Regions from separate parts of the Homo sapiens genome. Here region 1 is linked to region 2. The links come from fine-mapping of genetic effects on gene expression. Tissue or cell type: monocytes. Region 2 holds a variant in brackets; the other region holds the start of a gene. All regions are shown on one strand. Distances are between the middles of the regions.

What was found. PIP is the estimated chance that this variant, and not a neighbour inherited with it, causes the effect.
Region 1: XAB2 starts here. The variant in region 2 is fine-mapped to the expression of XAB2 in monocytes (CEDAR, PIP 0.95).

Annotation. Positions count from the first base shown.
Region 1 is chr19:7,627,608-7,631,971 of GRCh38, forward strand. XAB2 (XPA binding protein 2) reads right to left here and starts at 1,938. Exons shown (of 19, transcript NM_020196.3): 1 at 1,870-1,938; 2 at 543-691; 3 at 121-244. The coding sequence starts at 1,920. PET100 (PET100 cytochrome c oxidase chaperone) reads left to right here and starts at 2,186. Exons shown (of 4, transcript NM_001171155.2): 1 at 2,186-2,253; 2 at 2,966-3,052; 3 at 3,216-3,239; 4 at 3,866-4,349. The coding sequence starts at 2,227. The coding sequence ends at 3,949. It overlaps PCP2 (Purkinje cell protein 2), which reads right to left. Exons shown (of 4, transcript NM_174895.3): 4 at 4,008-4,201. The coding sequence ends at 4,082. It also overlaps a transcript of STXBP2 not described here. RefSeq lists enhancers at 1,850-1,969, 2,230-2,279.
Region 2 is chr19:7,076,346-7,081,282 of GRCh38, forward strand. ZNF557 (zinc finger protein 557) reads left to right here. Exons shown (of 8, transcript NM_024341.3): 5 at 36-162. Among named protein-coding and RNA genes, the nearest start is that of ZNF557, 9.1 kb to the left of the region's middle. RefSeq lists a silencer at 1,779-1,979. The variant CT/C (reference allele first, on the strand shown) is at 2,895.

The sequences.
Region 1 (4,364 bases), 550 kb after region 2:
GAAGCAACAGGAATCCAAGCCCCCATCCCTAACATGCTGAGCCCAGCCCCTGTCCCCGCCCCACCCACCACCATGGACTGAGCTCCACTTCCCGATTCATCCCCTCGCCGAGCCCCAAACCTTGTGCATGAACACAAAGGCCCTCTCATGACAGTTGTTGACATCTTCATAGGCAGGGTCGGTCACACAGCGATGCTTCACCTGTGCCCGACGCGCCTTCAGGTATCGGTACCAGAGTTTGTAGCTGGGGAATAGGAGGGGACAGATGCTGATCGGTCAGCTTTATGGACACCCCCAGAACCATTTGCCCTGCCCCAGTTGGCAAATGTGGGAAGAAGGGGTGTGGGAGGGGTGACATGTCTCAGCAATGACAGGGACAGACTGGGACATCAGAGAAGGTGTGCTGACCCATCAAGGGATGTACAGGTCAGTGATGAAACACGAAGCAATCACCCGGGACCCGGGACCCACTTGGCAGTTTTGTTATAACTGGACCAGGTGGGGTGGGGGCTGGTGGGCAGGGCAGCTGGAGCCATTCCCACCTGCAGGGCAGCAGCTTGAGTGCCCGCTCGTATAGCTGATTGAGCCTGGGCTTCGGGGCGCCCTGTTTGAACTCGATGTAGCGAAGCCAGCATTTGACAGAGAATTGGTTCCGCATGATTTCCTCCTCATAGGGGAGGTCCTCTTCCTCCTGCCAGGGCCAGGGAATGGGAAGAAGAGAGGCCTACCCTCAGAGCCTGTGTGCAGCACCATCCCACTGCTGGGGCTCAGGTCCAAACTCCGGACTTTTACCTAGATCCCACCACCCACCAAGGAAGTCAGGTCACCAGATGCCCAGGCACCAAACCAGATGCCCGACACCAAGACAGTGGCCCAGACCTTTACCCCTCAGAATTCAACTACCCAAAATCGAACCCAAATCATCAGACTTCTCAGTCATTAGGGCTCTGGGCCAGGAATGAGTCCGCATCACCACTCGCTTTCTGCCCCAGATGGTCAGACTCCTTAGATACCAAGGCCCTGGCCCAGATGCCAGTCCTGGACACCAGACCCCACTTCTTCAAAACGTGCCTCTTCCCAGACACCAGGCCTTTGGCCCCTCAGACTCCCACTGTCACCATCTGACCCATCTCCACCCCAGGCCCAGATGACCAGATCTTTACCCCAGCCACCAGGGCTCTCAGGTCCAGATTCCAAGCCACTAGCCCCGCCCCCAGGATCCCACTAGCCAGCGTCTAGCTCAACTCTGCCCCAGAAATTAAAAGCTAGGCCTTTATCTCACAGGAGGAGTTATACACCAGAAGCCAAGCCTTTAACTCTGCACACCAAGAATCTGGTGAAGATGTCACGCCTCTACTCCAGAGAGTAAGTATTTCACTGGCCATCGCCTGACAAGCTCCACATCACCAGGGTTCTTCTAGCCTGGCCACCACCCCAGAAACTGTCATGCTGCAGTCCAGGCCTAGAGACCGCTATCCAGAAAACCAAGCCTTCATCCCAGAAACCAGAACCCTGGCCTCGTAAGCAAGCCTTTACTTCAGACACCGATCTTCACCTCTCAAGGTTCAGTTATGCGATCTTCCTCCTCTCCCATTCCCTGCACGCCCCCATTTCCGCCCCTGGTTCGGGAGGCTAGACGCTTCCCTTCGACAGTGGTTTTCTACTCAGACCCGAAGATACAACACCATATTTTTACTCCTGGACAGTTCGGTGCGGACATGACGATCCGGTCTCTGGCCCATTAGGGTTCCCAGACCTTGGCCTGGCAGTTTCGGCCTAAATCTCCTTGCCGACCCAGCCTCGATCCCCTGCGGCGTCCAGGTCCCAATGCCCCAACGCAGGCCACCCCCGGCTCCTCTGTGGACTCACGAAGACAAGGTCCGGCCGCTCGGGCCGCGAGAGTCGCGCCATCACCACCATTTTTCTGGATGCCCAGGTACAGGAGAGAGTCGCGCGCTTATGACGTCTACCACTGACGGCCCGCCCCTCCGAGCCAGACCCGTTTTCTATTGGTTAAATCATTTTTGACGGACAGGCCCACGTTATTGACTTCTTTTCGACGACGCCAGCGACCGGAAGCAGAATAGAGGCGCCAGAAGATGCGCCATCAGGATACACATTGGCCAATCAGCTTCAGCAATGGAGCGTGCAAAACACCAGTGAGCTTCTGTCTTGCTGGAGGGTCGGCTTTGGGCGGAACTGGCTTTGTTGACCGGGAGAAACGAGATGGGGGTGAAGCTGGAGATATTTCGGGTCAGTGGACACAGGAGTGGGTTGGGAGGCTGGGCAGGGGATCTTCCTGGATCTGAAGATGAGGTTGGAAATGGGGGGACTTCAAAGGAAGAGGGAGCTCCAAGGAGAAAGCTCTTAAGATTTGAGAGGAACCTTTCTGGTTGGAAATCCAGGAGAGGGGACGCTGGGCTGGGGGGGTTCTCGGATTTGGGCTTCTGGGTTTGGGGGCTGTGAGAGGGCTGGTCCGAGGAAGGACCTCAGAGAGGGGTGAGCTGAGAAGGGGGCTCTAAAGAAGGAAGACTTAAGATCCTGGGGGAGCTCTCGGGCTCGTGGTGGGTGGGTGTCTATGACAGGGAGATTCCTAGACTTCGAGAAGTGGAGTTGAAGAGTGACGCCTCCTGGGTTTGGGGGTGCTCCCGGGATCTTAAGTGGGGATGGGTAATGAGGTCTCGAGGAGATGCTTTTGATTGTAGCTGGGGCGTCTGTGTGTCTGTCTGTGTTTGAGAGGAAGACTCCAGCTCAGAGGGAACTTTCAGGAATGAGGCCTCCTGGATTATAGGAGTTAGGTTTTAGGGTGCGAGGTTTCTGTACCCTTGGTGGGAGTTCTGGGATTCTTGGGTCGGCCGTAACGAGGCGCTTCTGGACTCTGCAGTAGGATGGGTCCCCCAGGCTCTGAGGAGCCTCTGCACATTGCTTGGGGGGAGCTCACCTCACCCACCCTCTGCCATTCCAGATGATAATCTACCTCACTTTCCCTGTGGCTATGTTCTGGGTTTCCAATCAGGCCGAGTGGTTTGAGGACGATGTCATACAGCGCAAGGTGGGCATAAGAGGAGTGTTTGAGGGTTCATTCCAGGGGTGGGAGAGGGTGTGGGGCAGCAGTCTGCTGGGGACTAATGTCTGCCTCCCATAAGCCGACCCTGCCCTGATGTGGGGCTCTGGAGGCCTTTGGCTCGTGTCCCATTTGTGACTTTTCCTTACAGAGGGAGCTGTGGCCACCTGAGAAGGTAAGTGATCTCTTCTTCCTGCCAGAGGGATGGAGGAGGCTGGATTCTTGTATCCGGGATGGGTTTTAGATGAAAATTTTAGGCCAGGCGCAGTGGCTCATGCTTGTAATCCCAGGGCATGGGAGGCTGAGGTGGGTAGATCACTTGAGGTCAGGAGTTCAAAACCAGCCTGGCCAACATGGCGAAACCCCATGTCTACAGAAATACAAAACTTAGCCAGGCATGGTGGCAGGCGCCTATAATTCCAGCTGCTTGGGAGGCTGAGGGAGAAGAATCACTTGAACCCAGGAGGTGGAGGTTGCAGTGAGCCCAAGATCACGCCACTGCACTCCAGCCTGGGCAATAGAGTGAGACTTTGTCTCAAAAAGAAACATTTTACTCTCAGCCATGAGTAAGGAACCGAGAGCAGAGGAGTAGATGGTTTCCTTATTGCCTTCTCCTGGAAGAGTGAAGCGGATCCCACGCGGACCCCTTTGTAATTGGCAGGGGGCTTCCAGTGAAGACACTGAACCCTGAAGCCGTGGTCTGGGGCAGGGTGGTGGGAGAGGTGGGCGGGGGGGGGTGGTCCCGGCTCTGAGGTGTGTGCCCCTCCCCCCTTCCTGTCCCACCCGCTTCTCCACCCCTAGCTTCAAGAGATAGAGGAATTCAAAGAGAGGTTACGGAAGCGGCGGGAGGAGAAGCTCCTTCGCGACGCCCAGCAGAACTCCTGAGGCCTCCAAGTGGGAGTCCTAGCCCCTCCCCTGATGAAATATACATATACTCAGTTCCTTGTTATTCATTTAAGTGTTTTATTCTTTTATCAGTTTTTGGGGGCCGAGTGAGACCCAGGATGCCTCAGGCCCTCAGGGGGCTTGTGTCGGGGGCTGGGGGCTGCTGTTCCGACGGAAGCCGAGAGCGGTCGGGTCCTGAGGGGTGAGCAGGGGTTGGGGACTGAGGGTCCCAGCTCGTTTCTGTGCTCCGTCCTGTGGATGAAGAGGGGTCAGCCAGGGGGAGGGCTCAAGGGCAGTGCCGGCCACAGGTGGCGAACAATGGAGAGAGGGTGCAGGTAGCCACCGTGTCCCACCTCATTGTGAGCACTGGTCTATGTTTACCCTCAATATCTGCCATTTAGGGTGGCATTTGAGT
Region 2 (4,937 bases):
TCCTTGGCTAAGCCGTGATGTTTGCAATGCTTTAGGGCTTGGTGACCTTTGAGGATGTGGCCGTGGAGTTCACCCAGGAGGAGTGGGCATTGCTGGACCCTGCCCAAAGGACACTGTACAGGGACGTGATGCTGGAGAACTGCAGGAACCTGGCCTCACTGGGTAAGCCTAATGTCATTCCTGCATTTATTTAATGACTCAGGAAGTCAGTCTTTTTTTTCTTTTTTTAAATTGAGGTAACACAGGACACAAAAGTCACCATTTAAACTATTTTAAAGTGTCCAATTTGGTGGCTTTTCGTAGGTTCACAGTGTAGTACAGCCATCACCACTAATTCCAGAACATAGTTGTCACACCAAAAATAAGCCCCATAGTCATGAAATGGTCTCTCCCCAGTTCTCCCTCCTGAACATCTTGGCAGGCACTAATCTTTCCGTCTCTATAGATGTGTCTCTTCTTTTTGAGGGGGTTGTTTTTAGACAGTGTCTCCCTCCGTCACCCAGGCTATAGTGCAGTGGCGTGATCCTGAGTAGCTGGGACCACAGGTGCGGACCACCACGCCCAGCTAATTTGTTTATTTTTTGTAGAGACAGGGTCTTGCTATGTTGCCCTGGCTGGTCTCAAACTCTTGGGCTCAGGTGATCCTCCTGCCTTAGCTTCCCAAAGTGCTGGGATTACAGATGTGAGCTACCATTCCTGGCCCAATTCTTGACATTTTATATAAATGAAATCATACAAAATGTGGTCTTTTGTGTCTCACTTTTTGCTTAGCATAATGTTTTCTTTCTTTTTTTTTTTTTTTTTTTTTGAGATGGAGTTTCACTCTGTTACCCAGGCTGGAGTGCAGTGGTGTGATCTCAGCTTACTGCAGCCTCCACCTTCCAGGTTCAATCTGTTCTCCTGCCTCAGCCTCCTCAACAGCTGGGACTAAAGGCATGCGCCACCACACTCAGCAAATTTTTGTGTTTTTAATAGAGATGGGGTTTCACCATGTTGGCCAGGCTGGTCTTGAACTCCTGGCCTCAAGTGATCCACCCACCTCAGCCTCCCAAATTGCTGGGATTACAGGGATGAGCCACCACGCCTGGCCGATGTTTTCAAAGTACAGCTGTGTTGTAGCACATAGCAGAACTTCATTCTTTTTATGGTTGAATATTATTCCGTTATGTGTATATACCACTTTTTATATATCATTTCATCAGCTGATGGAAATTTAGCCTGTTCTCATCTTTTGGCTATTGTGGGTAGTGCTGCTATGATCATTCATATACAAGATTTTGCTTGAGCACCTGTTTTCTCTTGGGTATATACCTAGGAGTGGAACTTCTGTGTCCTGTGGTAATTCTGTGTTTAATGTGTTGAGGAATGTCCAAACTTTTCTACAACTGCTACACCATTTTACATTCCTACCAGCAGTGCATGAGACCAGCAACGTATTAGTTTCTCTGCATCCTTACCAACATTTGTCTCTTTTCCTTTTTTTAAAAAATTATGATAGCCATTCTTGTGGTTGTCTGTCTCATTGTGGTTTTTATTTCTATTCCCTAAAAAAAATGATGAGATTGGCCATCTTTTCTTGTGCTTGTTGGCCATTTATACATCTTTTTTGAAGAAATGTTCATTCAAGTGCTTTTTCCATTTGGGGGGCATTGTTTGCCTTTTCGTTATTGAGTTGTAAGAGTTCTTTATATGTTCTGCATCCTAGACCTTTATCAAATATATCATTTTCAAAGATTTCCTCCCATTCAGTGGATTGCCTTTTTACTATCTTGAATGATAGTTTTGCAGGAGATAGAATTCTTGGTTGATATTTTTCTTTCAGTACTTGGAGTATGTCATCATCCCACTGGCTTGCGGCCTCCATGGTTTCTGGTGACAAATCAGCTGTTAATCTTGTACATGATGACTTATTTCTCCCTTGCCATTTTTCAGGATAGTCTGTCTTTGGCTTTTGACAGTTTAATGTTAAGGTATCTCAGTATGAGTTTTTAAGTGTATCCTATTGGGAGATCCTTGAGCTGCTTTGATGTGTAGACTTGTAATTTTCATCAAATTTGGGAAAGTTTGGCCATTATTTTTACATATATTCCTTTTTTTTTTTTTTTCCCGGAGTCTCACTCTGTCGCCCAGGCTGGAGTGCACTGGCACGATCTCAGCTCACTGCAACCTCTGCCTCCTGGGTTCAAGCAATTCTCCCTGCCTCAGCCTCCTCAGTAGCTAGGATTACAAACGCGCACCACCACAGCTAGCTAATTTTTGTATTTTTAGTAGAGACAGGGTTTCACCATGTTGGCTAGGCTGGTCTCGAACTCCTGACCTCAGGTGATCCTCCCACCTCGGCTTCCCAAAGTGCTGTAATTAGAGCGTGACCCATTGCACCTTGCCAATTTTTCCATATATTCCTTCTGCTCCTTTCTCTGTCTCCTCTCCAGTAGCAACTCCCATTATGTGTATTCAGATGTTTGATGGTATCTTCTGGGTTTCTTAGGCTCTGTTCATTTTTTTCCCTTTATTTTTAATTTCTGCTCTACAGATCAGGCAATCTTAATTGACCTGTCATCAAGTTCACTAATTGTGTCTTCTGCCTGATCAAGTCTTCTGATGAACCCCTCTAGTACATTTTTCATTTCAGATAATATATATTTTTCAATTTTAAAATTCCTATTTGGCTCCTTTTTATAATTTCCATCTCTTTATGATTTTCTCTATTTGGTGAGAATTCATTCTCATGGTTTCCATTAGTTCTTTGTACACAGTTTCCATTAACTCCTTGAGCATATTTGAAATAGTTGATTTGAAGTCGTTGCCTAATAAATCCAATGACTAGGTTTCCTTATGGAAAATTTCTGTTCATTTCTTTTTTCCTATAATGCAGTTTCATTCATTTTTTGTTT[CT/C]TTTTTTTTTTTTTTTTTTGAGATGGAGTCTCACTCTGTCACCCAGGCTGGAGTGCAGTGGTGCAATCTTGGCTAACTGCAAGCTCTGCCTCCCAGGTTCACGCCATTCTCCTGCCTCAGCCTCCCGAGTAGCTGGGACTACAGGCGCCCACCACCACGCCTCGCTAATTTTTTATATATTTAGTAGAGACAGGGTTCACCGTGTTAGCCAGGATGATCTCGATCTCCTGACCTTGTGATCCGCCCACCTTGGCCTCCCAAAGTGCTGGGATTACAGCCATGAGCCACCGCGCCCGGCCCATTTTTTTGTTTCTTTACATGCCTCATAATTTATTTGCTGAAAACTACTTTCAGAATATTACAATATGGCAGTTCTTTAAATCTGATTTCCCCCCTCCCCAAGGTTTGTTGTAGTTGGTATTGTTTCTTTGTTTAGTGACATTTCTGAACTAATTTTGTAACGTCTGTATTGGTCATGTGTGGCCACTGAAGTCTCTGTTCTGTTAGCTTAGTGTTCAGCTTGGGATTAATTTGTCAGAGATTTTTTTAAATACCTGGAACCCAAAAGATGACCAGTCTTTGCCAATGGATCTGAATTACATGTTGGAGCATGCCTTCAAAACTCAGCTAAAGCATCTTACAACTCTGACTTAGCCTTCAGTTCCTTCTTATGCAGAGCCTGAAGGTCAGTCAAAGGTGAGGGCTTGGTGCCTTCTCAGATCTTCTCTGAGCATGTGTTCATCCCTGGGTATGAGCATGGCCTTCTAGAAATGTGTGGAGGCCGGGCGCAGTGGCTCATGCCTGTAATCCCAGCACTTTGGGAGGCTGAGGTGGGCGGATCACCTGAGGTCAGGAGTTGGAGACCAGCCTGGCCAAGATGGTGAAACCACATCTTTACTAAAAATACAAAAAAATCAGCCAGGCGTGGTGGCAAATGCTTGTAATCCCAGCTACTTGGGAGGCTGAGGCAGGAGAATTGCTTGAACCCAGGAGGTGGAGGTTGCAGTGAGCCGAGATCACACCACTGCACTCTAGCCTGGGCGACAGAGCAAGACTCCATCTTGTGGGGGAAAAGAAGGTGTGGAAAGATGCTCTACTCCTCAGAGCATCTTGTTCCCAACTTCTCCTCCCAGGTTTTTTGGTTAGTCTTTTGTTTGCTTCACAGTTTTCCCTTGCCCCATTGAGCAGTGGCTGATTTGCCTTTAGATGTGTTGGGACACACTTCCCTCTCCACCCTCCAGCTTCCATAGGTGTAGCCTCTTCAGACCTGGGAGAGTTTGGAGTTACACAAATAAAGGGAAGCCCTTTGATCCAGCCCATCAGGGAGCCAGCAGACAGGTCAGAAGAGAACAGCCACAGGTTTTTGAGAATAAGGTGCATTCTGTTCCCTTCAGCACTAGAAACACAGGTTGTTGTCCTCAAGGCAAAATGGGGAATAGAGTGTGCAGCTAGAGTCAGTTAAAATGTCACAAATCTCTCTTACCCAGATTCAGCTGTTTGTCTTGATTAGGCATTCTCCTGTGGCTGTAAACTTTTGATGACATTCAAGAGCTCCAATGAAGTTGATTCTGTGTTTGCCCATTTACATACTGTTTTTGTGAAGGGATGGAGTTGTGGAGTTCCCTACTCCACTACCTTCACTGACATTACTTCGTTTAAGTCCTTCATAAGCACCTCTGTTCCTAGGTCTGTGCTGGGATGTGGGAGTAGTGAAGAATGCAACAGACATGCCCCCCACCCTCATGGAGCTGTCTGTCTAATGCTATCTGTATGAAATGAAGATCTCCTTCTTTCCCTGACTATATATTCTCTGTAGTTAAATCTTTTGGGCTTTCAGATTCTGTATTTAAACCTGGACAGGGGCTCCTGGGACCAGTTATCCTGCAACCACCCTAGATATTGCTTGTGGGGTGTGTGTGTGTGTGTGTGTGTGTGTGTGTGTGTGTGTGTGTGTGTGTGTGAGTGTTTAAGACGGTTGCTATATTTATTCAATTTTGGCATAATTATTTCTCTGCTCCTGAAGTCACACCTCTTCACCTTCA